Linked DNA regions of Homo sapiens. The protein of the gene in region 2 interacts with the protein of the main gene of each other region in a biochemical or structural test. Each region holds a gene or a part of one and is shown on either strand. Other genes may lie near its edges.

The links.
Region 1: the proteins of EGLN3 (region 2) and IKBKB form a complex in vitro, tested with the Homo sapiens proteins (one study listed by BioGRID).
Region 3: of the proteins of EGLN3 (region 2) and SUMO3, one has a biochemical effect on the other in vitro, tested with the Homo sapiens proteins (one study listed by BioGRID).
Region 4: the proteins of EGLN3 (region 2) and PKM form a complex in vitro, tested with the Homo sapiens proteins (one study listed by BioGRID).
Region 5: of the proteins of EGLN3 (region 2) and SUMO1, one has a biochemical effect on the other in vitro, tested with the Homo sapiens proteins (one study listed by BioGRID).

The regions. Positions count from the first base shown.
Region 1 is NC_000008.11:42,300,740-42,307,086, forward strand, and holds part of IKBKB (inhibitor of nuclear factor kappa-B kinase subunit beta), read left to right. Parts: exon of another isoform or gene 1-608; intron 609-4,447; coding exon 4,448-4,536; intron 4,537-5,603; coding exon 5,604-5,693; intron 5,694-6,347.
Region 2 is NC_000014.9:33,925,088-33,931,434, forward strand, and holds part of EGLN3 (prolyl hydroxylase EGLN3), read right to left. Parts: intron 6,129-6,347; coding exon 6,009-6,128; intron 4,126-6,008; coding exon 3,989-4,125; intron 1,947-3,988; coding exon 1,873-1,946; intron 836-1,872; coding exon 804-835; 3' UTR 1-803. UniProt on the Homo sapiens protein: Prolyl hydroxylase that mediates hydroxylation of proline residues in target proteins, such as PKM, TELO2, ATF4 and HIF1A. Target proteins are preferentially recognized via a LXXLAP motif.
Region 3 is NC_000021.9:44,810,256-44,816,602, forward strand, and holds part of SUMO3 (small ubiquitin-related modifier 3 isoform 1 precursor), read right to left. Parts: intron 3,850-6,347; coding exon 3,721-3,849; coding exon of another isoform or gene 3,607-3,720; intron 1-3,606. UniProt on the Homo sapiens protein: Ubiquitin-like protein which can be covalently attached to target lysines either as a monomer or as a lysine-linked polymer. Does not seem to be involved in protein degradation and may function as an antagonist of ubiquitin in the degradation process.
Region 4 is NC_000015.10:72,206,189-72,212,535, forward strand, and holds part of PKM (pyruvate kinase PKM), read right to left. Parts: intron 4,291-6,347; coding exon 4,159-4,290; intron 3,672-4,158; coding exon 3,485-3,671; intron 2,704-3,484; coding exon 2,433-2,703; intron 1,090-2,432; coding exon 939-1,089; intron 693-938; coding exon 540-692; intron 1-539. UniProt on the Homo sapiens protein: Catalyzes the final rate-limiting step of glycolysis by mediating the transfer of a phosphoryl group from phosphoenolpyruvate (PEP) to ADP, generating ATP.
Region 5 is NC_000002.12:202,216,649-202,222,995, forward strand, and holds part of SUMO1 (small ubiquitin-related modifier 1 isoform a precursor), read right to left. Parts: intron 3,459-6,347; coding exon 3,384-3,458; intron 1-3,383. UniProt on the Homo sapiens protein: Ubiquitin-like protein that can be covalently attached to proteins as a monomer or a lysine-linked polymer.

The DNA.
Region 1 (6,347 bases), on a different chromosome or scaffold from region 2:
CTGTTATCTTCCTATGGCAAGTCTGCCATGTGGACCCATTCTGTGGAAATGTACTGTGTCATTTATCTTAGTTTTTGTGTTTTTCCTGCATACACTGCACTGTGTCGTTTATTTTAGTTTTTGCATTTTTCTAGAGGCAGGGTCTTGCTCTGTTGTCCGGGCTAGAGTGCAGTGGCACGATCATGTTTCACCGCAGCCTTGAATTCCTGGGCTCAAGTGATCCTCTCACCTCAGTCTCCCACGTAGCTGGGATGAAGGCATGCGCCACCATGCCTGGCTAATTAAAATTTTTTTTTTTGTAGAGACAGGGTCTTGCTATATTGCCCAGGCTGGTCTCAAACTCTTGGCCTCAAGGGATCCTCCTCCCTCGGCCTCCGAAAGTGCTGGGATTACAGGTGTGAGCCACCATGCCTGGCCTCACTGTGTAGTTGTGAATAGCTTAATAGTTTGCAATGTGGTGCTTCTCACAGCTCTTCTCTGTAATGGGAACATGAAAAATTACCTGGTACAGTTTTATGCTTTGTGGTGTGGCTTTTAATTTTTATAAACATGTCTTACTGCTATTGCCAGGGATTTAGATTTTTAATAAACTTCCAGATTCAACAGTATTTTTCTTCATCTCAATGTCTCATTTTTCATCAAATTTAAACAAAGTTAGATTCTCTGGGCTTGAAACAATTTTGATTCATTTCACTTTAGCTCTGAAGTACTGTTTTGTAAAATGTAGCACAGTGATACTGAACCAAGCTTTTTGAAAGCTTATTCTCTGCAGGGTACATTTAAGAGGACTTGCCTATCAGAATTTTTACATTTCAGTCCCAGAAACTATGTGTAACAATACCTGTTGGATTCTTTAAATCTGGACTTTATTAAGTTGACAGAGGTATTGAAGAATAGATGACCACCCCGAAATGAGGAATAAAGTTTGTTTTGTACAGTTGTTTAAGCATAAAAATAGACAGATATTAATAGTAGTCAGAGTATTCAGTTACCAACCTCTTGTCCCTCCTCACTGAAGATCTGGTGACAACTCTAATCCACGTGGCGTAGAGAGCGGTGCCTTTGGTCTAATCCGAATGCTCCTCCTCTTCACTGGGGGGTTCTGGGGACATCTCACCTGGTTGTGCCCTGGGTTTTGCCCTGAGATGTTAGCCTCCAGCTCTGGGGGCCTTGTCTCAGTCTGGGCATGTGTACTTGCTCAAATTACAGTATCTCAACTTCCATATATTCTGCTTTGGAAAAAACTAACCTACACTTTTATGTATTACATCCTGATACTCTCCAGCAGTCTGTCATATACCAAAACAGGTCTTTTGTGAACCTATCAGTTAACAGACACTTTGAGTTATTGCATGGCCTTGCTCTCTGCCAGCCAGTAGTTCATATTCAACAGCAGTGCCATCCCTGTCTGCAAGGCTGTGTTAGTGCAGCTATTTTTTATACTTCATTTAATTTATTATGCTTTTTCATTTGCTTTGATTTTTAATAAAAGTAAAACAAAAATAAAAGTGCTGATGAGAAGCATTGGTCTTGAAACATTAACACAATTGAGAACAAGATGAAATATAATTTTTTAGGCACATGGAAAGCAGCGAGTCTTTCACCTCATCTGGACATTAATTGGACCTAAGCTGATCTACTCTGTCACTTAGGAAGGAAATGAAAAGTAAGGAACAGTATGATATGTTGGAACCACATGGTCGAAGGCTGGACTTAAAAGAGCAGATGCAAGGAGAGATCTGGCACCACAGATAGAGCATCCCTAATCCCAAAGTCCAAAATCTAAAGGGCTGTAAAATCTGAAGGTTTTTGTACACTGACATGATGCCAGAAGTGGAAAATTCCACACTTAAGTACTTAACACATTGTTCCATGCACAAAATTATTAAGACTATTGTATAAAATTACCATCAGACTATAAAATCATTTATAAAAATTCAGTTGTTTCATATAAGGTATATATGAAACAAATGAATTTTGTGTTTAAGCTTGGGTTCATTAGGAATATGCCAGTATTCCAAAATCCAAAAAAAAAAAAACTGATCCCAAGCATTTTGGATAAGAGATACTCATCATGTATAGCTTAATGTTCTGAGCTGGAACTCCTTTAATAAGGTGGAAGTCAGTTGTTCAGCTCTCAGTTTGACTCTTAAATATGTTTTCAGCAAATGTTCAGCTTAGAGTCTTTGCAGAGAATGTTTGCTTACTCAGTTTCTGTGGAAGGCTTTTCCGTTACCCTGCACAGAGGGCCGTACCCATGACAGCAGATAGGATCGCTGCCTGGGCCTCAGGGGTCTTCCCCTCCCCGGCTTGCCGAGAGGGAGAGAGAGAGAGAGAGAGAGAGAGAGAGAATGAGAGAGAGAGAGAGAGAGAGAGAGAATGAGAGAGAGAGAGAGAGGAGAGAGAATGAGAGAGAGAATGAGAGAGAAACAGAGAGAATGAGAATGGTGGTGGCGGCGACGGCATACAGAGGGTTCATTGTTAAACCTCTGAATGTTACTGCTTTTGACTTTTTAAGTTTTAAACAAGAAACAGGTCATACCATTAACTATCCCTCTGAGTCAGAAAATATAGACCCAAGAGTTGCCTGTTCTAATGTGGCACTACCATAATTTGTTCTAACATTTCCTAATGACTGTCTGTTTCTAATTATTTCATTCAAGATATGCAGTAAGTATCCTTGGGCTACCAGTGAAGTGATACCATTTGTATCTCTTCTTCTGTGCTTTCTCACCACTTGACATTCTTTGCCCATTTTTCTTTTTCTTTTTCTTTTTTTTTTTAGGTAGAGTCTTACTCTGTCACCCAGGTTGGAGTGCAGTGGCCATGATCTCGGCTCACTGCAACCTCTGCCTCCTGGGTTCAAGCAATTCTCCTGCCTCAGCCTCCCGAGTAGCTGGGATTACAGGGGCATGCCACCACACCCAGCTAATTTTTTTGTATTTTTAGTAGATACAGGGTCTCACCATGTTGGCCAAGCTGGTCTTGAACTCCTGACCTCAGGTGATTCGCCCACGTTGGCCTCCCAAAGTGTTGGGATTACAGGCGTGAGCCACCGCGCCCAGCCCCATTTTTCTTCTGCATTGCTTTCTTATTGATTTATAAGAGCTTTTTATCTATTAGGTATCTTTACTCTTTGGTGTATGTGTTGTAGATATTGTTTCCCCACCTCTCTTATCTTTTGGCTTTGTTTATAGTATCTTTTGCCATAAACTTTGAAAACCTTTTAATGTTATTTGCACTGTTCTATTTATACCATGTGACTTTCCTGCATACACTGCTCTTTTTGCTACATGTATCCCATGGTGTTTTGGAGTTTTTGTTGCTAATGTGAATGGGATTTTTTTTCCTTTCCACTGCAACTGGATATAGCTAACATAGAGAAAAGCTATTGACTTGTGTATTCTTGTTCGTTTCCAGACAACTGGCTAAATTTTATCCAGTGTTTAGTCTGTTGAGCTCTCTAGGCTACATCTCCAAATCTATCTCCATCTCTAGTCATAGCATCTCCAAATAAAAATAATTTTATCTCATTTCAGTACTATTTATTTCATTTCTTTCTTTTATAGTGCAGTGAACTAGATGTCTGTCAAAGTTATTCACCCTCTCTTGAGGGTAAAATCATGTCCTTCTTGCCATCTGAGCTGCAGGCGGGTGCCTCCTCATGTGACATCATCACGTTGCCTCCTCACAGCAGAAGCTCTTGGTATCAAATGCTTCCGTAGCCAGTGTTGTGCAGTCTGCTTTCTTCCAACTAGATTCTGAGCTCTTTAAAGTTGGGGATCATGCCCCTTATTTTATGTCCCTCACAGAACCTCCCAGAGAACTGGGCATGTAGTAAGTCTGTGTAGGGCTGTCTGTATGTGTGGGAGGTGTCCCTGTTCTCCTCTTCTGCCTCCCCGCTGCTTCCTGGAAGCCAGTTCTGACCTCTTGGGACTGTCGATCATATGACCATAGGACTCTGTCCCCAAGGGCCCTTCCTCCTTGCCCACCCTATAGAATTTAGATTTTTGAGCCTCTAGACCAAAGAAACTTCCCTTCTCAAAACTTTATTGGCGTCAGCATCACCTGGAGAGTTTGTTAACACAGATCGTGGGGTCATCCCCAGAGACTTGAATCCAGAGGTCTCAGGTGGAGCCCGAGAATTTCACATTTTGAACAAGCTTGTTTGCTGCTGGTCCAGGTAGTATAGTTTGAGAAGCACTGCTCTAGGCTGCAGTTGGTGACCTCATGGATGCAAGGCAAAGAGTGCTTTGCGCAAGTAAGCCAGATTCCTGTGGAAGTTTAAGCCTCACGTAGCAGGGCCCCTGCCCTCCACCCTGAGGTATTGCGCTACAAGTCAGAGTATGTTTCAGGGGCATGCGGCATTTATCTTTTGCAGGATAGGAGATTCTGTCATGAAAAGCATTTTTTAGGCCTAAGAAAAACTCACCCCCCTCTTCCTCAGCCTCTGCGCTTAGATACCTTCATGAAAACAGAATCATCCATCGGGATCTAAAGCCAGAAAACATCGTCCTGCAGCAAGGAGAACAGAGGGTAAGTGACCTCCTGGGACTGGGAAAGCCTCAGGTGGGCGTGCCGGGAAGTGGCCTGGGAGGAAAGGAGCACACTCTGCATATTTGTGTGTATTTGCATTTCCTTGCCTGTGCTTTGATTCTCTGGGAATGCTGTTTGATTTGAAACAAAATTGAGCAAAAAAGTTGTTGCAGATTGAGGCAAGTTTAAATGGATTACATTGTTAGTTGCTCAAGTTGCAGGAATCTGATAAGGAAAATAATGTTTGCCTTCCTACCTCCACCCCTAGCCTCTGGGACTAGCGCTTCTTGGAAGTCGACTTTTTGTTTTCCATTTGCTTTAAGAGCCTCGCCTCTCGACTCTAAATGGAAACCAGTGGTCAGTTGGTTGTGGATGTGGCTGGGAAGAGGCACTGGGAGCTGGCCTCTGCTGCCAAGCCTGGTCCAGCCTATAGTTTCCCCAGAGCTCTTTGTGGCCTCCTCAGTGGCCACCCGGCTCAGACGTGGTGTTGACTGCCCCACAAGCTTGACATTGTGGTCTTTACCCACCCACTCTATGTGTTCAGCTGGGGTGGTGAGCACAGGCTCAGCTGAGTGGAATACAGTGAATGAGTTCTTAGATCACCTAATCCCTTCCCATACAGCTGCCCTTAGCACCTAGGCCTGGCCTGTGACTACCACAGGGCTCGCCCTTGTTCCAGTTCACCCTCACTCCTGTCAGTGGTGCTCAGATTTGAGAACTGAGGGCATTTACTGAGAAGAGGCTGGCCCGGTCCTTCCTGTTTCAAGTCTGGGTTTAGCTGTCTTGAGGGCTGGTGCCTGTTCTGTTCATTCAGCTTCCCTCTGATGATGCGTGGCAGAGTGTGGGAGGACACGTGCCTAGCATTTTTACAATATGCCTTTTCTTTTAGCCCTGAATCTACCGTGTCGAGGGCATTCTTTTGTGTATCTGGTGGCTCTTAGGAGTTTGGGATCTAATAGTACCTGGGAATTCAGAAATACCTCTGCTCTAACACCAGGCAGTCAGAATCCTCGTAGAAGGACATTGTGTTCTTATAACCCTCAGCTTTCTCCTTCCTTTTGTTTTAGTTAATACACAAAATTATTGACCTAGGATATGCCAAGGAGCTGGATCAGGGCAGTCTTTGCACATCATTCGTGGGGACCCTGCAGTACCTGGTAAGAAGTGGGCCTTGCCTGTTTGCCTGTCAGCTCCTCCCTGCTGCTGCATTTGTGGGGCTCCTGTCCTGCCTTGCTCCCAGCACCTGAGTCCCACCGGCTCTCTGAATGTTTTGGAGATGCATGAGGTCACACCCATAACCTGGTCGAGTCAGCATTTTTTGCCACCAGATGCCCTGTGGAGGGATGTGGTCGTCTTCTCTGATGTCCGGAGGGCTCTGCTCATGCGCCTTGCACCATCCCCTAGCCTCTCTGTGCTTCAGTGTCTTCTCTGAAAGGAAAGGGTTTTAAACAGATCCATGCTGGTCTTGAGCGGTCCTCCCACCTCAGCCTCCTGAGCAGCTAGGACTACAGGCAGGAGCCACTGAGCCTGGCCGAGGCCACACTTTCCATGAGGTATTTCAGGGGCCACTGAGTAGGGGTCAGAGCTCTGAGCTCCCCACCCTTTGTTTACGTTATTTGGTCTGAATATTAGGTTTCTGTTTGAGTCACTCATTCATTCAAGCATATTGATGGAGTGTAGTCTGTGTCAGGCACTGTGCTCAGGGCTGGTGATGCAGTGGGGAAAAAAGACAAGCCCTTTTCGGCCTTCAGAGCTTAGGGTTTAGCAGGAAAGCAAGCATTACTGTGATGCTTACACAGATAACTAAGAAA
Region 2 (6,347 bases):
GGATATATTTTTCCTTTCATTTAAATTTAAATTCCATTCCAACAAAGCAACCAAAACAACTAATGTCTAGTTTTTTAGCTTCTGGGGAATTAGGTTCCCAGGTAAGAACTGAAAATGGAGAAAAAATTGTGTTGCCATCTTTATTCAGAAAGTCATTATTTTCAGCAAAATGGGGCTGAGGCAGAAAATCCAGGTTGCAGGACTGGGAAAAAAGGAGTGTCTGCCCCATGGGACACTTATAAATTGTTCACTATGACAGCAGCCCTTTCTAGAGGTATTAATGTCATTAGGTTGTGATAATTCTCCAGAAACCCCAACAGCCCTGGATTAAGAACATCTGGAAATTGTTCAGATGACACAAATTTCTCTGTTTCCTGCTGTTAAGGCTTCCGTGATGCCTCTCTGTGGCATCTACCACCTCCATTTTTTTCTTTTCAAACCTCCTCCTTTCAAATCAGGAAGTATACATAAAGTGCAAGTAAGGTTCATTCCCTCGCTGTGCTCCTAGGCTCTTCTCTTGATAGTATTACCGAATCTATCAGGTAAACCGCTGGCCGAGTAGGATGTCTGCAGGAATTTCTGGAGTTAGCAAGTAACTTCATCTGGCAAAGAGAGTATCTGAAGATCAACACAGTCTTGGCAAGAAAACATGAAGTACCACACACAAGACAGGGATGTGAAGGATGCAAGAAGTAGCAGGGAGATTGTTGTCACTGAAGAGGCCATCTTTGGATCTCAAAGAATTTAAGAGAATTCAGGAACCGTTACTAAAATGAACAAGGCCAGCAGATTTCAGAGCACGGTCAGTCTTCAGTGAGGGCAGATTCAGTTTTCCCTGGGTTGGGGACAGAAAGGAGAATAAAGAGGGTATGGAGTCAGCTCTGATGAGTTTTATGTCACAAATGTCACCAAAAAGCCTCCAGTAAACACTTCCCATCTTATATAAGCCTCCTAATAGAGCTCTGCCAAAGGATTCTCTCTTGACTTTGCAATGGGATCTTTCCCATATGCCTCACAGACTGTGGAGGAACTTTGGGTTTACATCCAGCATTGGCACCTCTTGGGCTAATGCTGAGCATAAGTTGTATGAAGTGTAGCCTCACTCACATATCAGAGTTAAGCAGTGTAGGCCATCTGGAAGAGAAAACAAACTGAGATTTCCTGGGTGCAATTTGGAGACCACTTTGGTATTTGAGAGGTATACAGTCCAAATGGGTTATGGGCTAGGCAATATTATATATGTTTCCTTACTGCAGGATCTCTTAGCGCCTTAATTTAATATGCTAGTGAGCAATGTGACTCTTTTTAAGACAGGCATACAGCATGCAACATTTCCCACATTTTTGGGACCAGGAATTTACCAAATTGGCAGGATTTGTGTTTTAATGCAACGTATTTTGGGAAATGCTGCCTTCTAATACTGGTTGGAAGGGATAGGAGTAGTGCTGTTATATTCAGTTTATATTACATGAGCCCTGCTGTTATACTGAGAGTCACAGTCTCACCCAATATAATAAATTTTGCCATCATAACTGGGTTCCATTATATTTCCTTTGCAATATGCCAAAAATCATGGGCAAAATTTAATGTTACATTTGACTGGTTAACATTAATAGGAAAAAGTTAACTATTTCCCATCTATCATAAACCATCATACATTCAGTGGGCATTCTCAGGGGAAGCCCCTTGCATTGTTTCTGATTTTTCTAAGAGCCCTAAGGCCAAGGTTTCAGGATAAAACCCATCAAGATGTCATTATATATAAAGCTAAGCCGTAACAGATTGAACAGAACATGTTTAAAACTACATAAAATTGAATAAAAGTCAAGGATTAACTTGATCAAAAGTCACAGAAAATTATCAAACACATACTAGTTAAATTCCTGAATTTCTTTTTGGCTTCTGCCCTTTCTTCAGCATCAAAGTACCAGACAGTCATAGCATATCTGTGAAAGATAAGCAGATATAAGGAAAGAGATTTAATGGTACTACTAGAAACACAAATGTCCTATAAATCTCACATTAAAAGTTTTAAAGTTTTCTCTATTATTAGAAGTCTACCCTGATTTATTTATTTATTTATTTATTTATTTATTTATTTATTTTTTGAGATGGAGTCTTGCTCTGTTGCCAGGCAGAGGCGTGATCTCGGCTCACTGCAACCTCCACTTCCCAGGTTCAAGCGATTCTCCTGCCTCAGCTTCCCAAGTAGCTGGGACTACAGGTGCACGCTACCACACCCAGCTAATTTTTAAATTTTTAGTAGAGATGGGGTTTCACCATGTTGGCCAGGATGGTCTCGATCTCTTGACCTGCCCACCTCGGCCTCCCAAAGTGCTGGGATTGCAGGTGTGAGCCACCATGCCCGGCCTGTCTACGCTGATTTTAATTTAAAATTAACTTCTCTGGTTTTAATTCTATTTCAATGTAATAAAATGCATAAGGAATTCCAGGTATGTGCCAGAAATTATCTTGGGCATTAGGAATTCAAATGACCCTGTGATCAGATCTTCCTCTGCGATCTCAGGCTCCAAGTAGGGGAGACAGGTGATTTTGCAATAATGCAACAGGTAAACATAGCCTCTACAGAAAGGACTAGAAGGGAGTCATTCTGCTAAAGACTGGGAGACCCAAGTTGGTGGCGAGAACATAGAGAAGAGATGACATTTGAGTGAAGCTTTGAAAAACGACTTATGTAAATCACAGTATGTTTAAAACTCTTGGCTTGCTTTCTTTAGTTTTGGACATTGAGGCAAAATTGCAATTGAATAATAATAATGCCCCAGAGCTTTCTACTGCATCCCCACTAATTTGCTTTATCCCATTCATTGGATAGACTGTAATGGGAGCCATTTCATGCTTGGTTTTTTTTTAAAGTTTCATTTTGTAATGATTGTTAGCTACTTCCGTAGCTAACAATTTCTATAGCACTTGAGTTTTTTTCAAGGGACTTCTCATCAACATTTGCTAATGTTTTCCCTGTAAGGCCAGTCATCATGAGATTGGGGAATAACCAAAGACTTCTGCCACAAACAACAGGGTTTAGTTACATACCCCATAAAACACAAAAGCTGACTTCAGTGGTAGAATTCGTTCCCTGCTCATCTAGAAGACATTCCGATTTGGCAGTTAATATATAACTGGGTTTGGGGCTAAGCTGTGTGACTTCCGGAGGAGGGCACATGTGATCTTAATTTAATTAGGCTTGTTAGGGTTTAATCATCATCCTACCAAAATTCTCTCCTCCTGCCCCTGAATGCTAGTCTCAGTATAAGCTGCACTCCATAGCCCTCCAATGCTGCCCGGCTTATTGCTTTAGACACAGACAAAGGTAAATGAGAGGCAGAATTGAGAATGAAGATTTTTTGTCAAGATTGTCTAGATTGGTCCTAAACAATACTAAGGTGTTCAGTTACTCTGAGAATCTTCATGTGCACATGATAAAGAAAAGATTAATAAAACATCCAACTGTTGGACCATGGATACAGCAAGCCCAAGCCAATTTCAAACCAAGGAAAAGACAAAAAGAGAAAGTCAAAACAAATTACTCTTTCTCTTCTCAAGGCTCTTTCTCTGCTTGCAATTAGCAGCTTGTAAACTCATCCAAAGTAACCAGACAGAATTCCTGATATGTGACAGCCAACATTCTCTAGGCATAGTTCAACATTAGGTTTTTTAAAAAAAGGGAAAGAGAGATAAGAGAAGGGAGGAAAGGAGAGAAGAGAAAAATACTTTTGAGAAATTGGAATCCAATATGCTCATCTAATAGAAAACAACTTGTTAATAGTACTTTCAAACTGAGGTTAGGTTTGATATGCTAAAGAACGCAAAGTTTCCCCTTTAATTTTTGTAGACTCCAAACAAGTTTGCTATCAGCTATGGGGTGTGGTCAATCCCCCACATGCACAGGACACACGTTTAAAGAGTTCTCTGGAACTAGGGTTTGTACACCAAGCTCCGGAAGAGGAATCATGGCTCCGGCTATTACCTGGTTGCGTAAGAGGGCTGCACTTCGTGTGGGTTCCTACGATCTGACCAGAAGAACAGGAGTCTGTCAAAAATGGGCTCCACATCTGCTATGAATGATTTCCCCTCTGGAAATATCCGCAGGATCCCACCATGTAGCTGAAAGACACAAAGAAGGGGGATTATTTCTTACCTCTCATGTAGTTTATCAACAACCATATTTCAGCTCCATTTAGAAACATGCCATCTGCTAACCACCACTCCAAATGCATGGTACCCCAGATTTTTACTTCAACCTCATAGTTTGTACCAATTTGAGATGGAGTTTCACTCTTGTTGCCCAGGCTGGAGTGCAATGGCACGATCTCGTTTCACTGCCACTTCCACCTCCCTGGTTCAAGTGATTCTCTTGCCTCAGCCTCCCGAGTAGCTGGGATTAGAGGCATGCACCACCATGCCCAGTTAATTTTGTATTTTTAGTAGAGACGGGGTTTCCCCATGTTGGTCAGGCTGGTCTCGAACTCCCGACCTCAGGTGATCCGCCCACTAGGGCCTCCTGAAGTGCTGGGATTATAGGCATGAGCCACCACGCCCAGCCACTTCGTACCAAATTTTATATCAAACTTAGCTAGAGATATCTCCTTATTCACCTTAAACCAAAAAAAGCACTCCCACCCCCCACAGTCATAAAGCCCATGGACGTAAAATAGAGTACTATTAGATTGAATCATACCGATTTGCCAATATTTGAGTGTTTTTGACTTAAAAAAAAATGCCCAGTGATCTCACATGGTTCCATCTAACCATTAACAACTTTCTAAGAAAATCATCACATGTAACTTCCCCTTCAATTAGAATTTACAGCTCTTCTGAACTCCCTTAGCTCCTATCTGACCTCATTAGTTGGAAGTTACATGCTCTTTTTACTGAACTCTCAGACCACCTAATCTGCACCTTTTATGACATACACCACTCTCTTCCTTGAATTATTTTTTTTACATGTCAACCTATTTCATCCTACTAGAATAACCATATTCAGAGTAAAGTTCAGGCCTCACACATCAATGTTTCTTCATAATACAACGCCTGACACTAGCAGGAACTCAAATATTTGTTAAATGATTCCAGACCTTGCAATTTATTATTACCAGTCTGATAACTTTATTCTCTTGTCTCTATCAGCACCTCTCAAGATTTTAAAGGAGACTTAATGGATGTATTCCAGTCATGTTACCAAACAGGGAGAAGAGATAGGCCTTTTCACTGATTCAATGGTTTCCCAAGTTTCGTTTTTCTGACTCTGGATAAATATTATTGCTTTATGACAGCCAGTATTTGCCTAATGAACAGGAAATTGAGATGCAGAAGGTTCAAAAGCCAAATAAGCTTGAAAAGTTATCTGACTTCCCAGACTCCTAAATCATTCTTAACTTTCGGAAAGCATACAGAGTCCAGATGAATGTCTGTAAGCATGGAACCAGGCTTCATATCTCCATCTATCTATAAGTTCTATAATACAAAAATAAGCCACAAAGCCTTTGGCATTCACAAACCATAGTAAGCCATGGCAAGCAGCCATCAATGAGACATACCACCCCGAGGGAGAGGACTGTGTGGGAAATCTCTCTTGGGGATGGTTTTATAGCCTACAGTTCTATTTTTGTGGAACTTTCTCAATGCTGCTGCTGGGAGGGAAAAGTGTATATCCTATTCTGCATTGAGTCAGAACAACTCTGAATTAAACTGAAAAAAATTAATCCTTAATCCTAATATCAAATTACCTTCCCTTCATCAACCACCCTTCCCAGAGGTAGGGTTAATAATCACCCTACCTACCCCACTCCAAATTAACTTCATTGTTTTCTTCTTAACAACTTTAGGACTAATTCCATTGTCGCAGGAGGTTATGAAATGGAAATAGAAATGTTTCATCAGTGGGAGATACGGCAACTATGAACTCAATATAAACTCTCCTCTAAGTTATCTGAATCATTTTCCTGTAGTTTCTAACCCCACACTCTACTCCCATTATTCAAAAGTACCTTGGCATCCCAATTCTTGTTCAGATAGTAGATGCAGGTGATGCAGCGACCATCACCGTTGGGGTTGTCCACGTGGCGAACATAACCTGTTCCATTTCCCGGATAGCAAGCCACCATTGCCTATGGAGAAATCCCAAGAAAGCTGGTTAACAAAGCTGAGACAGACAATCTTCTCCTCCCACTGGTGAGCAGATAAGTAACACAGTCTCCTTGGGTGTTACGTGACATTTACAGGTAGTTGCTGGCTTCTTAATTTCATGTATGGTACATAAATTTGGACTCTTCTGTGCACAATGGCCAGGTCATACTATGGCTCTGCCCAGTGGAAAGTAGTTCAAC
Region 3 (6,347 bases), on a different chromosome or scaffold from region 2:
GAAAACGGGAGTGGGGATGGGCAGATATGTCAATGCTGGGCTGAGCCAGAGGCTACTGAGGCGTGGACACTGGTGGTCTGATGGACACTGGACCAGGATCCTAGGGCGGAGGGACTGGGCACGCCCCAACCTGTGAGGCAGAGCTGTGGCAGGCAGCTGATTCTGAACAGCTGCCTGGAAGTTCACATGCAGACCCCTCAGGCAGGACCCCCACAACCCTGTGCCTCCCACGGCAGCACACATGAGATGTGCTTTCTGAGAAGGTGGGTGCGGAGCTCCAGGCGCAGGGCGGAAACAGGCCCACGAAAGCGCGTGCCCTCAACACTGTGCGCCAAGTCCCCTCTCCCCTCCAGATGCGCCTCCAGGAGGCTGGCCGGAGCCTGGAGGACTCAACTCTCAAACTGTAGCATCTGGGCGCCTCCAGAACCTGCAATCCAGACAGATCACCCCATGTGGATGCACAGCCCTGGCAGCACAGCCATCCATGTACACAGCTTTTCAGCAGCTTCTCGGTGCTCCATGCTTGCACAGAAGTCAGCCTGCGTGAGAGCAGTCAGGGAAAGGCTCACTGTGCAGCAGCCTAGAGAGGAGGGGAGGAGCGCAGAGGAGAACGGACAGGAAGGAGGCAGGAGAACACTCCCAACACAGGCACACACATGCCCACACCCACACATGCCCACACCCACACACATGCACACACCCACACATGCACACCCATGCACACACCCATGCACACACCCACACATGCACACACCCACATATGCACACACGCACACACCCACATACACACACGCACACACCCACACATACACACACACGAATGCACACATGCACACACCCACATACACACACATGCACACACCCACATATACACACAGGCACACACCCACACATACACACACAGGCACACACCCACACATACACACACATGCACAAAGACACGGACATACACACCACACACACCTACACTCACGATTCAAATTCTATGGGAAGTAAAAAATACTACTACCTTCAGAAAACAATCAATTGCTACTGAGGATGGGTGCGGTGGCTCACACCTGTAATCCCAGCACTTTGGGAGACCGAGGCAGAAGGATCACTTAAGCCCAGGAATTCCAGACCAGCCTGGACCACATAAGGAGACCCCATCTCCACAAAATAAAAAAATGAGCCAGGCGTGGTGGCGTGTACCTGGAGTCCCACCTACTCGGGAGGCTGAGGTGGGAGGATCACTTGAGCCCCAGGGCTCAAGGCTGCAGTGAACCATGATCACACCACTGCGCTCCAGCTTGGGGGACAGAGTGAGACCCTGTCTCAAAAAAAATAAGTTGCTACTGAGAAAAAAAGAACACTCAAAGAACAGAAAGAAAAAAGAACTTTTGGAAATTAAAAATCATGACAGAGATGAGAATGTCCACAGGAAGTGGAAAGATAAAGTTGAAATGACCTCCCGGAAAGAAGCCCAAATGCAACAATAAAGCCCAAAGCAAAATGGGAGAAAAATTATCAAATTTAAAATATCTAGGACAATGAGCAGCAGGAGGAACAGGAACTCCAAAAAGAGGGAACAGAGTCTGGAGAAGGATACAAATTATCAGAGAACTAACATAAGGCATATTTCCTGAATAAAAATAAACGTCCAGACCCATAAAGTGCCCAGCAGCATGAGTGAGAAAATCACCCACCTCTGAGGCACATAAGGAAACACTGAATGCCAGAATATGGTCCCAGATACTTCCAGGGAAAAACCAAGTTACAAACAAAGCACAGAGAATCAGAATCCACTGAACTTCTCACCTTTTTTTTTTTTTTTTTTTTTTTGAGACAGGGTCTTGCTCTGTCACCCAGGCTGGAGCAGTGATATGACCTCAGCTCCCTGCAGCCTCCACCTCCTGGGCTCAAACAATCCTCCCACCTCAGCCTCCTGAGTAGCTGGGACTATAGGCTTGCACCACCACACCTGGCTAATTTTTTTAATGTTTCGTAGAGACAGGGTCTCCCTGTGTTGCCCAGGCTTGGCACTGAACTCCTGACCTCAAGTCTTGAATTCCTGACCTCAAGTGATCCTCCCACATCAGCCTCCCAAAGTGCTGGGATTACAGGCATAAGCCACCATGCCTGGTGAACTTTTCACTTTTAACATTGGGAGCTATTCTCATGGCTGACCTCTGAAATAAAAAAGAAAAAAAAGTTTCAACCGAGAATATTACGTGCAGCCACATACTGAAGTGTGAAGGTTTATAAAAGCAAAAGTCACGTTCAGCCATGCAGTGTCTCAAAGACGCTGCCCTTCTGTGCCCGTTCTGACAAGACCCTGGAGGATGTGCTCCACCACAAAACACAAAAGGGAGGAGGACTAATCCAGGAAACACCCAAGAGAGAACCCAAGTTTCTAGAAGGATTTGAACAGGAGGCCCTGGACCACGGCTGAGCAGCCAGCCTCACAAGCAGCAGTGCAGGTGGGGCAGGAGGGGAGCTCCGGGAGAGCAGGGGGAAGGGCAGAGCCCCCCCCACATGTACACGGCCCCACACGCCTGCCATCCCGCAGCGCAGAGGAGAACATGGGCACCCGGGAAGTCACACACACAGTGGCCACGAGCCCAGGCAGTACAAACTCCAGCAAGGGCCAGGGCCCAGCATCAGGCAGAGGCTGGATCACGGGGCCTACACGGCGCCAGGCCACTCACTCTGCTGGGAAGACCGGGACCTGCGTGTCTGGAAGCTCAGTCTCACCTTTCGCAGGTGAAAATAAGATCTGCCCTCAGCAAACACAAAGAAAGGAAGTCAGGGGCTGCTTGCCAATAAAGAATGCAAGGCAGTCGCCAGTGACTGCCCCTATGAGCAGGGTATCCAAAGTGGGAGGGAAAGAGGAGGAAATCTAACTGAAAATCCACAGGCAAAAGAGTAAAATAAAAGGGCAACGAGTTGCTGTATTTTCAAAGCGGCTGAAGAAAAGCAGCCTCTAGGTCCCACTCAGGCAAGCAGGGCTCCCTGGGGAAGGGCGCCTGGCTGCAGGGCCGGGCCCCCAACACACCAGGCAGCAGCTGGTGGGCAAAGCCCATAAAAGTGGCCTAGAGAGGGACCCCCTGGCCCAGGGTGAGTCCGCCACAGCGTTACCAAGAACAACAGACACACACACACCACGTCACAAACAGCAGCCAGAAGGCATCCACCCAGCTGGGCACTGCCAGTGGGGCAGCTCATTATCCTGAAACTGGGGAAGAAGGGGAAAGAATCACGCGCTTTCTTGCCTTTCCTAACAAAATGGAAAACCACACCGCACATGAGGGCAGTGTCTCTCCAGGGTCAGGCCAGCTCATACGCGAGGACAGGGTGACAGCGGCGTGGGGCACACGCCACCTGCAGCCCCAGAATGGCCAGACCTGAGCAGGGCCCCCAAGAGCCTTCAGCATCACAGACTTCACAGATGTTAGTACCCCATGGAGAACACAGCACCCCGGGCAGCCGCCCTGTCAGGAAGAAAAACCCACCACACTTCTCCGAGCCTCTAGGTCCCTCCACCTTATAAAAGGCCATGGGGGACAAGCCCAGCCTGGACTAATTTTACAGCACAAGCCCCCGCCTGCCCATCCACGAAGAGGGCACCTCGGGCAGCTGCATCTGGGTCCAGCCCCGAGACGCTCGTGCTCTGGGGATGCCTGGAACGCACAGGACCAGTGCGCACACGGGGAGGCTCTGCGGGGGAGCAAGGTGCCGCACCTGCCTCTCGCAGTAGGCCTTCATCAGCTTGCTCAGCGGCGTGTGCCTCTTGATCTTGAACTGCACCACGGAGCCGTCCTGCCCGGCCACCTTCAGGTTGATGTGGTCATTCTCTGTCTTCACACCCTCCTGCAGAAGACACCAGAGACTGGCCTCAAAACTGTGTCTCAAAATAACCGCGACTTGAATGGGCAAGTCTTTAGGTAATTGTTGGCTTTTTAAAGTCATCAAAACCAACCTAATTCTTAAAATTCTCCAGCAATTCAGAGTCACTCGTGATGGTTTTATTTTTACACAGAATTTATTTTTAACTTCCACTTGTTAAGCATCCATGTGTAAAACAATGCAAGCCTAGGGTCCTCTGACATTGTTAATTCAAAGAAAAAAACAAAGTCTAGGGAAAAATAAGAGAAAATCCATCTTTATTTTAAAGTTATTCTTGTGGGCTGGGCACAGTGGCTCACACCTGTTATCCCAGTACTTTGGGAGTTGACGTGGGAGGATGGCGTAAGCCCAGGAGTTTGAGACCAGTCTGGGCAACAGAGCAAGACCCCATCTCTTTTTTAAAAAATTCTTATGAAACCAGTAAAAACACATATCCAAAAGTCATGCAGCTATACAGCACTAGTAAAAGAAACCAAAAACAGAAGAAAACATTTGTGACTCAGAGGAACCCTATGGGACATTCAAGTGGTGATTTCGGGAATCCAACTGAGGACGGCCACTCCCCACAGCAGGCGGCCAGGCTCCTTCTCGCTGCCCTGACATCAGCAAATGTGAGGGAAGCCACCTCCGAGTACTTTCTGGTTTCAAACTGTCCTATCTGAGCGGCAGTAGGTGGTACTATTTTATTTTTTAATTCATGCCATACTTGAAGCTACTCAACAATGGCACAATCGGGGTGTCTTGTTGCCTGAAAATGCATTTTGAGTTGAGGCAAAAAGCTGATGTCAAGAGACTGGGAGCCAACTTCGGGGCAGCTCAGTCTGAGCCGAAAAGTGGGGCACCCCTCTGCCGGCCTGCACTGCTGGGATAAAGTCGTTTGTGAGTGAAGCAATGAGGCAGGGCCCTCCGGCTCACTCTGAAAGTCAAGTCTGGGGCGTCCTGGTACCCTTTCACCCCATGCTGAGCTGCTGCCCTCAGGAAGCACTGTACATCACACGCCTGTTCTCTCCACTTCTCCTTTCCTTCCCTGGCTGGGAGAGGGACAACTGTCCCAGCGATGCCTAAATACAGGGAGTGGGATGTAGAAGGCTCGCCTGAGGGTGAACCCAGGGACTGCACCCATGCTTGCTTCCCTGGGGTATGCACCCTGGGGAGACCCTGGGGAGGCATGGTGCTCTGTCAAGGGAGCTAGAGTGGCCTGCAAGGGGCCTTGGCAGTGAGGGGCTCCAGCTGCGAGCCTGAAGGTGCGTGTCCTGGGGCGGCACTCACCCCCCGACTCCAGTCTTGGGCCAGACACCCCTGCCCACTCCCGGGATGCCAGTGGCTTGGCGGCAGCCTGAGTGGTGAGCTGGCACACCCCCATCTCCCCATCCCGAATGTGGCCTCCAGCACAGAGACAACTGGCCTAGGAAGGAAGAGCATGCAAACAGCTCCAGGCAGGATGGAAGTGGGGACCCCTGCATGAGCCCCCTTCACTTCCCCAAGCATGAGGATGCACTGGCTTCTTTAGGGAAGGAAGGTATGAGTGTGTTCAAAGGCACAGATGCAGGGCCCAGACGTCCCCCACAGGGTAATGGCTGCAGCCCCGGGGGGAATGGCTGCAGCCCCGGGAGAGGCTGGGGCAGGGCAGGGCCGGCCACAGTGCCTCTGCTCCAAACAGAATGACGATCTGTCCCAGACCCCTGGTGAATTCCTAATAAGCAAGTGAACTCGTGAGTTAAAAAGTGAAGCCCTAAAAACATGGGCCTCAGTTTGCTACAGTCAATCCTCCACCTCAGCTATCCAGGGAAGTCAGAACCATTCTCCTGCCTGACCTAAAAGCTCTTCTTTCCAGCACCACCGGGCCCCAGAGTCCACCTCTTCCCCTTCGTCAGAGCCCCAGAGGGCAGAGCTGCTCCCACATGGGCTCAGAGGGGACCCACCAGAAGCGGGGCCTGTGAGGTGGCAGCCACTCAGTCATTCTGGAATTAAACAAGTGTTTTCAACGGAACTGGAGCCTGAGATTGACCACATGGCAGAGCTAAGTGTAAATACTGCTGAGAAAATTAATATCATATGTATTTTATTACATTTACTCTTCATTAAGAGGAAGCCACCTACAAAAACATAAAGGACATTTATATTTGACCTAGTTTTAACAAGTATTTAAATATTCAAACAACCCCAGAGTGGGAGAACTTTGACTTCACTGGAGTCAAAATGTAAAAAGCAAAGGTCACCCCAAATGCCATCTGGATAGGGCAGGTTTCCCTGGAGTCTGACCACAGCAAGCAGAGTGCAGACTTCCATAGAGGCCGCGACCATGGTTCCTGACGGTTCCATCCCACTTCCCGCCAGTGTCTGGCACTGAGCCTCCACCCTCATCTGTAAAGGGAGGGTGGTCACCTCCAGGACCAGGCCAGTATCAGAGACAGCCTCTTTACAGAGCCTTCAGCTCTAGTCATCTTCCACTGGGATGTAAC
Region 4 (6,347 bases), on a different chromosome or scaffold from region 2:
CACAGGCAGCTCAGTGAAGGCAACAGACTCCAGTGCAGGTCCACAAGGGCCCCCTGCGGGAGCGCCTGTCTGCAGGATGCGGGGCAGAGGGAACTGAATTGGAAGCCAAAGGAAGAGGGCAGCTGGGAGCAGGAGCCCCTAGCCCTTTTCAGAATAGGGCAAAGGTACTCAGAACTTCTGACTCTGAGGAAGAGGTACAAGACCTCCTTTCACTGCAGAAGTATCCCAGGACTTAAGCCATGGGAAGAATTCACAACCTTGAAGTCAGAAGTGAAATAAACTGTGTGGTGTCCAATGAAGGAGGATGCCTCCAGAGCAGAAGGAAATGGAGGGGTGGGGGTGTGGGCAGGAATGCAGAACAGGAGAAAAAAAAAAGCCACCTCCACTTCCACCCCCACCCTCTTGCTGCTGTAACTTGGAGGATAATGAAAGGCTGTGCATAAGAGGATGGAGAAACCTAAAAAGCTCTGCACCAGAGCTTGCATCCATCCCAGGCCCAGTCCGAAGCCCTGGGGGATGGGGCAGGCCCCAGAACTCACCAGGTGCTGCATGCGCACAGCCTCCAGAGGATAGTCCCCTTTGGCTGTTTCTCCAGACAGCATGATGCAGTCGGCTCCATCCAGGACTGCATTGGCCACATCACTGCCTTCAGCCCGAGTGGGGCGGGGCTTCTTGATCATGCTCTCCAGCATCTGGGAGGGGACAGAGCATTAGTGAGATGTAGCTTGAGCTGTCTTCAGAGACAAATGACAGCAAGCTGATCCTCTGGATAGTGAGTAGGTACACAGAGTATGGCTTTGTGTAGGTACATGGGGGAAGGGGATTATCTGTGTGTTACGTGCGACAATTCCATGGGAAGAGATCAGACAGCCTCCAGAGCTTTCCCATACAAACATGCGAGTGTGCACATGAGAATGTGGGGAAGGGTGGGCACATGCCTGAGTAGCACAGATGACAGGCTTCCCAGCTCGGTTGCACCGTCCAATCATCATCTTCTGAGCAAGGAAGACCTTCTCTGCAGGAATCTCAATGCCTAGATCACCACGAGCCACCATGATCCCATCACTGGCCTCCAGGATTTCATCAAACCTGATGGACAAAGTTGGGGGGAGAGAGGTTATATAGAACAGAGGCCACAAGTATGGCAGTAGACAAGAAGTTTCCCTGGGATTCCCTAACTTAGATGTCCTTGTACCAGGACAGACATCCATGATATCATCATGGGTGCACACAGATGGCAAGGCAGTCCAGCTACCTTAGGCCCCCAGAGTGGGCCAACAATTCTGCCTGCTGGGCTTCAACACCAATATGGATGCTTCATTGACGGAAGAAAGGGGAGAGGGCAAATCCAAATGGGCTCATTCCCAAGGTCTCCTCTCCAAATCCCATGCATGTTAGGGGTCTCTCTAGGGCCTCCATTTTCCAATCAGCACTTCAAGACAGGGAACCTGAGGCCTGATGACTGCTTCCACCACAAAGACCCATGGCCTCATCTAGTCAAGGACACTTGAGGACTGCCCTTTGAGGTGGCCCACTCCAACCTGCTGAAGGCAAGAGGGAATGTGGCTTTGCCTGGCCTAGGGCCAAGTTCAGCTAGCCTATGGCTTATCAGGATGGCAAAGGGGAGGACCCCAAATTGCCTGGTACAGAGGATATCTACACAAAGCTCAGACAGTAAGGCCACTACAGTGGGTGCACAGGGTTGCTCCCCCACCCTCCCCAAACACACTTCTAATCCACAAGAGTGTGTCTAGCATCTTAGTTGTGCTGAGTTGTATTCCTAGCAGGATGCCAAAAATGGTGGCCATGCCCACTGGGCTCTACTTTGTGAGCATTGGGGAGGGGGTAAGCTAAGTTGGGGCAATCTGAAACTGGAGAAGAACCACACATCTTCCTCTGAGAGTGGAATGGACCATACCAGAGTTAGCATGATCACTGAGCCAGCTGCATTCTAAGTGAAGACCAGGAGGCCATAAGCTTTAACATGGACACCAGGCCCTGAAATTCCACATGGCTCCCCAGGAAGGGCCAAAAAGAGCCCTTTCTTAAGTGTCTGCTGTCATCTTTCCCCCTGGTCCCCCCATTCCAGCAAACACTGGTAGTGTTTCTGATCAGGAACAGAACATCATGGCCCCTGGTCCTGTGAGCAGTGACCCTGTTCTCTCAAATGTTGGTCCCCAGGCCCAGGGAACAATGTCAAGCTGCCAGCATCTCAATTACCTGGGAAGCTTTTTTTTAAAAAAAACAAAAAAACAAAAACAAAAAAACATAATGCCTTCTACTCTCCTAAGATATTCTGATTCAGCAGGTTTGGAACTGGCTTGGGAGTCTACATTCTGATGGGCTAGGGGCTGGGAATCAGACATTCACAGGATGGACCATGCCCTTCGGAGAGCTGCGCTGGGACTGGAGCAGGGACAACGGGGACTTGCCTCCGAACCCCCTCATGATTCTCGATTTTGCTGATAATCTTGATGTTCTTTCCCTTCTCTCCCAGGACCTTCCTAACTTCATGGACATCAGATGCCTTGCGGATGAATGACGCAAACACCATATCAACATCCTGCTCGACCCCAAACTTCAGATCCTGGATGTCCTTCTCCGACACAGCAGGCAAGTCCACAGCAGCCCCAGGAAGGTTCACACCCTTCTTGCTGCCCAAGGAGCCACCATTTTCCACCTCCGTCACCAGGAAGTCGGCACCTGTATGAAAAAGGGTAAGTAGGGGAGGCAGAGCACGAGGGCACAGGTCAACAGGAAGCAGGCACCTTTCCCGCAAGGACAGTGAGCTGGGAAGTGGTGCATTATGGGTGCTGGAGCTGTTTTACCAGAGTTGAAAACCTACTACACTGTGTAATCCTGGGCAAGCCATTTAACCTCTCTGTACCTCACTTTCCTCACCCATAAATAAGGATAATTAAGACTGTTCTGACTTTGGGAGGCCAAGGCAGGCAGATCACCTGAGGTCAGGAGTTTGAGACCAGCCTGGCCAACATGGCAAAACGCCATCTCTACTAAAAATACAAAAAAATTAGCCGGGTGTGGTGGCGGGTGCCTGTAATCCCAGCTACTCAGGAGGCTGAGGTAGGAGAATAGCTAGAACTCTGGAGGCAGAGGTTGCAGTGAGCCAAGATCATGCCACTGCACTCCAGCCTGGGCAACAGAGCGAGACTCTGTCTTGAAAACAAAACAAAACACAGCGAAACAAATATATATATATATATATATATATATATATATATATATATATATGTATATATATATATATATGTATGTATGTTCCTGTGTTCTCCAGAACCAGAAGAATGTAACTATGCTGGATTAAAGCCTATCTTTGAGGATAAATGAGTTATAAAAGGGATTCCTGAGAACACACAGACTCAATCTCACTGCCAGGCAACCAACCTTCCCATCTTCCTTGTGTCAAGGAAGTTTAGAGACAAAAGACTGTTTTAGACAACTGGACTCCAGCTCCCATACGTACCTTTCTGCTTCACCTGGAGAGAAATAAGCCCATCATCCACGTAGATCTTGCTGCCCACTTCCACCACCTTGCAGATGTTCTTGTAGTCCAGCCACAGGATGTTCTCGTCACACTTTTCCATGTAGGCGTTATCCAGCGTGATTTTGAGAGTGGCTCCCTTCTTCAGCTCCACCTCTGCAGTGCCGCTCTAGGGACAAGAGAGTAAGCAAGAGTCCAAACTGGAGACACCAGTAGCAGCATCACCTCAGAAGGAATGGAAAAGCTCTTTCCTCCCGGGAACAATGCTCAAGTCACTGCTAAAAGTAATACAGTTTTTTGCTCTTATTCTCTAACTCTGTATACTTCACGGAAATAATCCAAGAAAAGAATATGTTTCAGTTATGCTACTTAATGATGGGGAAAAAGATACAAAGAGATGGTTCTCCAAGTTAGAAAGCCTAAAGTTTAGGTTTTTAGGGTAAAAAAAAAAGGTTCCTTTGTGGTACCATTTCCTAGCAAAGTAGATCAAATCAACATTGTTTACAGTGATGAATAAATCCTCATTTGTAGACCTCAACTCCTCTGCAGTCCTTCATAGTACTGGGAAGAAACATGGCAACCCAGCGCTTTGGAGGACATGTCTCTGGGGCATATTGCCTACTGAGCCTTCCCCTCGCTCTCCGCAGAATACTCACGCCCTTGATGAGCCCAGTTCGGATCTCAGGTCCTTTAGTGTCTAGAGCCACAGCAACGGGCCGGTAGAGGATGGGGTCAGAAGCAAAGCTTTCCGTGGCTGTGCGCACATTCTTGATGGTCTCCGCATGGTACTGGGGGAAAAGAAGGAAGATGACAAGCGTGCTCCCACACTAGAATCCAGCTCCAATTCCCCTGCCCAGGAGCCAAAGCTGATCACTCAGGAAAGGCCCGTGGATGTCTTAGAGCTCTATCTCCATCCTCAGCACGATCCATGCACTGAGAAATCCTCTACCTGCTTAATCCAACCTCCTCAGCCTCCACCCACTTCTACTACAGCACTAATTCACCCAAAGGGCAAATCTTTGAAATGTAGGTGGCAAATTTCAGAATATTGCCACCAAAACCCATTAAGGTATGGGTGCAAACATGTCTCATCATAAAAGCAGCTGTGTCCCCAGGGCTGTTCTTTTTTCCCTAAGACTCATCAAATACCCTCAGCATATAAAGCTCATAAACAGGGCAAAAAGCCTAGGACTTGTGTTTGGATAAGGCTGGTCTGGCAATCAATGTCACATTCTGATATATGTGGTAATGCTGAGAGCTTTTCCTCTATTGATTCCAACTACAACGCAAACTTGAAGTTATTGACTTAAGCTAACAGTGGCCCAAGCTAAATAACTCATTGCTAAGGTCACACAGACCTGATTTTCTCAATCGCTTTGTTTTTTTTTTTTTTGAGACAGAGTCTTGCTCTGTCGCCCAGGCTGGAGTGCAGTGGCACTATCTAGGCTCACTGCAAGCTCCACCTCCCAGGTTCACGCCATTCTCCTGCCTCTCAGCCTCCCGAGTAGCTGGGACTGCAGGCGCCCACCACCACGCCTGGCTAACTTCTTCGATTTTTAGTAGAGACGGGGTTTCACCATGTTAGCCAGGATGGTCTCGATCTCCTGATCTCGTGATCCGCCCACCTCGGCCTCCCAAAGTGCTGGGATTACAGGCGTGAGCCACTGCGCCCGGCCTCAATCACTTTCTAGATTCTGATTGGAGGGGGAAAGGTGGTCATATGCCTTTCTCTAAATGAACTGCCCTTTATTACTCCTTGCTTACAACAAATCCTGGCTTCAATCTTTTTTCTTAAGCCTTTCCTCCTTTCCATTTACCATTTTGTTTGTTTAAAAGAGGGACTCAGGCTAAGCACAGTGGCTCATGCCTATAAACCAAACACTTTGGGAGGCTAAGGTGGGAGGACAGTTTGGGCCAGGAGTTTGAGATGAGCCTGGGCAACATGGCGAAACCTCGTCTCTACAAAAAACACAAAAATTAACTGTGCATGATGGTGCGTGCCTGGGGTCCCAGCTACTTGTGAGGCTGAGGTGGGTTATGTCTAGGAGGTCAAGGCTACAGTGAGCCATGATCACACCACTGCACTCCGGCCTGGATAACAAAGCAACACCCTATCTCAAGAAAAAAAAAAAAAAAAGACGCAGAGCCAAGATGTCAAAAGAGCTCTAAGATAGTGTCATCAATAAGACATTAGCGGTAACAAGGGCACCTAATTCAGCACTTTCTGGGCCTTGTCCTTTAACCACCACTGTCCAGGAAAGTGGCACCTGCAAGTAAGCCTGCCTGTTATTCACAGGAGGCTGGAGGGAGCTGGAGCCAGAGCCTAGCCTCTAAAGACAGTGTTGCCTGAAACCTGTGTCTAAAAATCTTCAGCTTCTTATTCAGGCATACTTCCTAATGACAGACCCTTGGCTTGTCTGTTTTTTATAGGGTTCCTTATAAATTATGATATTTTCTTGCTTACTGGCTTGTAATAGAAATAGAACAAAATAGAATAGAATAGAGGCTGGGCGCGGTGGCTCACACCTGTCATCTAAACACTTTGGAAGGCCAAGGCGGGTGGATCATGAGATCAAGAGATTGACAACAACCAGGCCAACATGGTGAAACCTCGTCTCAACTTAAAATACAAAAATTAGCTGGGCGTGGTGGCGTGCACCTGTAGTCCCAGCTATTCAGGAGGCTGAGGCAAGAGAACCACTTGAACCTAGGAGGCAGAAGTTGCAGTGAGCCGAGATCGTGCCACTGCACTCCAGCCTGGGCGACAGACAGAGTGAGATTCCGTCTCTAAAAGAAAAAAAAAAAAAAGAATAGTAATAGTTGTTTTCTTTTAAGGGGATAGGTG
Region 5 (6,347 bases), on a different chromosome or scaffold from region 2:
GTCTGGGACAAACACCCATAAAAAATTATTCAAAATGATGAAAGATTTAAATGTAAGAGCTAAAACTATAAATAAAACCATAAAACTTTTTTTTTTTTTTTTTTGAGACAGGGTCTCACTCTGTCACCCAGACTGGAGTACAGTCACGTGATCACAGCTTACTGCAGCCTTGACCTCCCAGGCTCAAGTGATTCTCCCTGCTCAGCCTCCTGAGTAGCTGGGACTACAGGCATGTGCCACCACGCCCTACTAATTTTTTATATTTTTTGTAGAGATGGGGTTTCGCCATGTTGCCCAGGCTGGTCTCCAGCTCCTGAGCTCAAGCAATCTGCCCACCTTGGCCTCCCAAAATGCTGAGATTACAGGTGTGAGCCATTGTGCCCAGCCTTAAAACTCTTAAACCACAAGCGTAAACCTTTGTGACCCTGGATTAGGTAATGGTTTCTTAGATAAATTACAAGCAACAAAAGAAAAAACAGATGAACTTAATTTACCAAAATTAAAAACTTTACGCTGCAAAGAATAAAACCAAGAAAGTGAAAAGACAACTCAAAGATAGGAGAAAATCCATGCAAATCATATATATGATAAAGGTCTAATACCCAGAATAAAAGACATATTACCACTCAACAATAAAAAGACAACTAACCCAATTTAAAAATGGGCAAAAGATCTAAAGAACTTCATTTTTCCAAAGAAGATGTACTAATGGCCAATAAGTACATAAAAAAATGCTTGGCATCATTAGCCATCAGGAAAGAGCAAGTTGAAACCACAGTGAGATACCACTTCACACCCACTAGGATTATAACCAAAAATACGGATAATTACAAGTGTTGACCAGAATATGGAAAAACTGAAACCCTCATATGTTGCTGCTAGGAATGTAAGATGGTAGGGCCACTGCTGAAAACAGTTTGGCAGTTCCTCAAAAAGTAAAACATATAGTTGCATACTAGACCCAGCAATTCCACTCCTAGGTATATATCCAAGGGAGCTGAAAACATATGTCCATACAAAAACACACATGAATGTTCACAGCAACATTATTAATAGTAGCCAAAATATGGGGACAAACTAAATATCAACTGATAAATGGAAAACAAAATATATTCTACCCATATAATGGAACAGAATTCAGCCATTAAAAGGAATATAGTACTGATACATGCTACAGCATGAATGAACCTTGAAAACATGCTAAAACAAAGAAGCCAGGCCAGGCATAGTGGCTCACACCTATAATCCCAGAACTTTAGGCCAAAGAGGGAGAATCACTTAAGCCCAAGAGTTCAAGACCAGCCTGAGCAACATAGCGAGAACCCTGGAGAGGGAGACGGGGATGGGGAGGGGGGGAGGGGAGGGAGGGGAAGAGGAACAGGGAAGCAAGGCAGAAAAGAAGAAACAAACCAGAATAAAAAGTCACATATCAAAGCTAGGCATGGTGGCTCATGCCTGTAATCCCAACACTGTGGGAGGCCGAGGTAGGCGGATCATCTGAGGTCAGGAGTTTGAGACCAGCCTGGCCAACATGGCGAAACCCCATCTCTACTAAAAATACAAAAATTAGCTGGGCATGGTGGTGCACACCTGAAATCCCAGCTACTCAGGAGGCTATGGCAGGAGGGTCGCTTGAACCCAGGAGGTTGAGGTCGCAGTGAGTTGAGATCAGGCCACTGCACTCCAGCCTGGGTGACACAGCGAGACCCTTGCCTCAAAAAAAAAAAAAAAAAAAAAAAGCCATATATCTTATGATTCCATTTATATGTAATGTCCACAAAAGGCAAACCTATAGAGACAGAAAGTAGAATCATGGTTGTCACTGGCTGGAGGAAATAGGATGGGGAATGACTGCTAATGGGTACAGGGTGTCTTTTTGGGGTAATGCAAATGTTCTGGAATTAGTAGTGGTGATGGCTGCACACACTTGTGAATAATACTAAAGCCCCTGAATTATATACTTTAAAATAGTGAATTTTATAGTATGTGAATTTTATCTTTTAAAAGTTTTCAAAATAAAGCCGGCATGGTGGCTCACACCTGTAATCCCAGAACTCTGGGAGGCCGAGACGGGTGGGGATCACCTGAGGTCAGGAGTTCGAGACCAGCCTGGCCAACATGGGGAAACCCCGTCTCTACTAAAAATATTTTTTAAAAAAATTAGTCAGGCTTCGTGGCAGGCACCTGTAGTCCCAGCTACTCGGGAGGCTGAGGCAGGAGAATCACCTGAACCCAGGAGTGAAGGGTGCAGTGAGCCAAGATCACGCCATTGCACTCCAGCCTGCCAACAAGAGCACAACTCCATTTCAAAATAAAATTTAAATTTAAAAAATTTTGAAAATAAAAAATAAAAGTCTTCAAAATAAGATAATCACAGAAAAATGGGAAAAGGGTATGAACACAATTAACAGAAGAATATAAATGTAACAGACCAAAAAAATTATACCTTATTAATAATCAGGTAAATGAAAAATAAACAAAAATGTTTTACCTAGCATATTTGAACAAAATTTAAAGACTGTTAATATCCCATGTTTGGGAGAATATAGGGAAATGGTACTGTCACACTTCAATAGAAATACCACTGCACTCCATCCTGGGCGAGTCCACCCTTCCACCAATTCTCTGTCTTTTGTCCTTTAGAAAACCCACGTAACTATGTAGATTCATTCCTCCAACGGTTGTTAGCTAACCTTAATTAACATTTCAGAATCAATAAGATACAGACTAGAGCCAGGCGCGGTGGCTCACGCCTGTAATCCCAGCACTTTGGGAGGCCGAGGCTGGCGGATCACGAGGCCAGGAGATCAAGACCACCCTGGCTAACACAGTGAAACCCCGTCTCTACTAAAAATACAAAAAAAATTAGCCGGGCATGGTGGCGGGCGCCTGTAGTCCCAGCTACTTGGGAGGCTGAGGCAGGAGAATGGCGTGAACCCGGCAGGCGGAGCTTGCAGTGAGCCGAGATCGCACCACTGCACTCCAGCCTGGGTGACAGAACAAGACTCCATCTCAAAAAAAAAAAAGATACAGACTAGAGTCTAGGGAAATAGGGGGCCAGAAAAGGGTCAGGAAAAGGGCTGATAAACCTTTTACTTAAGGTTGGCCCTAGCCTTAACACTTAATAGTATTCACTGTATTTGCCCCTGAAGCACACTAACCAAGAAAACATTCCTATTTGGAAAAATTAAGATGATCTAAAACTGCCTGGCAGAGTAATTTAAAAAACAGTATCGGCCTCTTCTACCTCTAACAGATGCATACACAGTAAATTAAAATGCATACATAGTCATTTTAAAATAATTTGCCTTAAATAATTTTTTTTCCTGTGAAAAAGTATTCACATTGAAGGGGACTCAAAAGAGAAAAACAATGAAACTCACCTGTCCAATGACTTTGAGTTTAATATATTCACCTTCCTTCTTATCCCCCAAGTCCTCAGTTGAAGGTTTTGCCTCCTGAAAGAAAATTAAATTTCAAGATAAAAGTTCCTACATGCTATTTTAATTACTCACTTATGAGTATCCATTACTTTCATTCAGGATGCAAAATCTGCACCTGAGAATACAAACAGCATTTCTTTTCCATGCCAGTCAATTAAGAAAAAAAAATCCTAAGTCAATTACTGTCCCAAACGCCATTCACTAGAAATCAAGAAAGGGGTCTCTTTTATTATAATACCCCATAGTAATGGTCTAAAACTTTACCACGCATCAAAATCAGCTGAAGGACGTGTTAAACAAACTGCTGGGCCCAAGACCCAGTTTCTTATTCAGCACATTTGTAGTAGGGATAAGAATCTCTTTCTAACAAATTACCAGGTGGTACCGATACTACTGGCCAGAGGAACAACTTGGAAACAACTGCCCTACAGCCAGCTCTTACCAGCACAAAGGAAGTTCATCCTCCATGAATTTTTAGACAAACTTCTGAATCCAAGATTATCTTCTCACAGCCTATCATGAGGAGTTTACTTTAACTACAAAACTGTACTAAGAAATGTAAATTAATCATATTAGCATAAGCAAGGCTATTATTTATTATTTTTTTGAGACAGTTTCGCTCTTGTTGCCCAGGCTGGAGTGCAATGGCTCGATCTCAGCTCACCGCAACCTCTGCCTCCCAGGTTCAAGCAATTCTCCTGCCTCAGACTCCCGAGTAGCTGGGACTACAGGCATGCACCACCATACCCGGCTAATTTTGTATTTTTAGTAGAGACAGGGTTTCTCCATGTTGGTCAGGCTGGTCTCAAACTCCCGACCTCAGGTGATCTGCCCACCTCGGCCTCCCAAAGTGCTGGGATTACAGGCGTGAGCCACAGTGCCCAGCCAAGCAAGGCTATTTAGAAAGGAAAATCAAATAAGAAAGTATTAGCCTAATGTACTCTGGAGTCAAAACGAATCAGTTTTATATAATCAATTATTTTAGACTATCCGAAGCATAATGCTTAAGTTTAAAAGAGGAGACAAAAATAGGAGGACAAGATACTTGAGAGGCTGTGGCACTAGGACTGCTTGAGAGCCCAGGAGTTGGAGGCCAGCCTGGACAACATAGCAAGACCTCATCTCTTCAAAAAAAAAAAAAAAAAGATCACAAAAACAGTTACAAAACAATTTCCAATAAAGAGATACTGAAATGAAAATGAGGTTAACAGAATAAATTAGTTAAAACAACTTCACCATGAAGTATCTCAAGAATAAGCAAATCATTTTTAGTAAAGGGGGTACCTTGGAAAATTTCATGAATAATGTGGTAAAAAAGTAGCTTTTTTTCTCTATGTGCTACACCTTAGTTTGGCCACCAAATTACCCACTTATTTAGATATATACCTTATTATCCGTAATAATTTCAAGCAGTTAATCCGTATTTGATAAGAATAACCATAACCATTACCTGTGTATCTCATGCCAGTAACTTAAAATACAAAATTCTTTAACATTCAACAATTAAAAGAACATATTAAACTAGAAGCAGCTTTTAACTTTAAAATACAGGCTAGAGTCTAGGGAAATGCTTAGATAACAGAACTGATTTCATTAGTATGAATCCTTGCCTGTTTTTCATTCTGCAGTGCTTTTAACATTTGCTGACTACTGACTATTACAGCAGCAGGCAAAATTAACCTTCTTTAGTGAGACAGTATTTCACCTGAAAACTAGAAGACTGTCTTCAAATATAGTCTCTCCACATTTCTATGAATTTATATTCATAGTAAACAGCTGCTTCTTCCTCTAAGTATCTAGAAGGCAAAGAGCTTATTCCATGCAGTGAAGGGCAATAAACAGCAACCAAGCCCTGAGTCCTCTGTAACTGGAAGGAGAGGAGGCCTTAAGAAGCTTTGTTTAAGTTACCACAAAGGACAGCCCCCTCCCCTAGCAGCAATATATCAGCACAACATGAGTGGCTTTGCTCCTGTGTCTCCTAGATAGGGTAGCTATAGCGGCTACTCAGCACAAAAGAATTCTTCCCCTCCTCCCCTCCATCATCCTCAGTGCTTCAGAATTCTCCTAAAGTCCAGCTTCTCCAATCCTGTAACTACTCAGATCAAAAAGCATAAATACCTTCCAGGACTTTAGGGCCTATAACCTAACTCTATAGCATGACATTCTCTGCTTCCACCATCAAGCTCAATTCTCATTTTTCTCTCATCATTCACTCAACATACCCAAAGATTCTGTTCAATTGGACTATTTGCTGTTCCCTGAATATGTCCATTAGCATTACTTCAACTTCAGCCCTTTGCGGCCCTAGTTTCATTTACCTGGAATATATATACATATCCTCTCTCAGCCTCTCTTGAAATCACCTCAAGGATATCTACCTCACACATGAACTTAAGTTCAGTATTTTTTTTTCTTTTCTTTTTTTTTTTTTTTGAGACAGATTTTCGCTCTTGTTGCCCAGGCTGGAATGCAATGGCACAATCTTGGTTCACTGCAACCTCTGCCTCCTGGGTTCAAGCGATTCTCCTGCCTCAGCCTCCCAAGTAGCTGGGATTACAGGAGTGTGCCACCACGCCCGGCTAATTTTTGTATTTTCAGTAAAGATGGGGTTTCCCTATGTTGGCCAGGCTGGTCTCGAACTCCTGACCTCAGGTGATCCACCCACCTCAGCCTCCCAAAGTGCTGGGATTACAGGCTTGAGCCACTACGCCCGGCCTGCTTTTTTTTTTTTCTCTTTTCTATGACAGAGTCTCGCTCTGTCACTCAGGCTGGAGTGCAGTGGCACAATCTCGGCTCACTGCAACCTCAGGTTCAAGCGATTTTCTCATCCCTCAACCACCTGAATAGCTGGGATTACAGGCATGCACCACCATGCCCAGCAATTTTTTGTGTGTGTATTTTTAG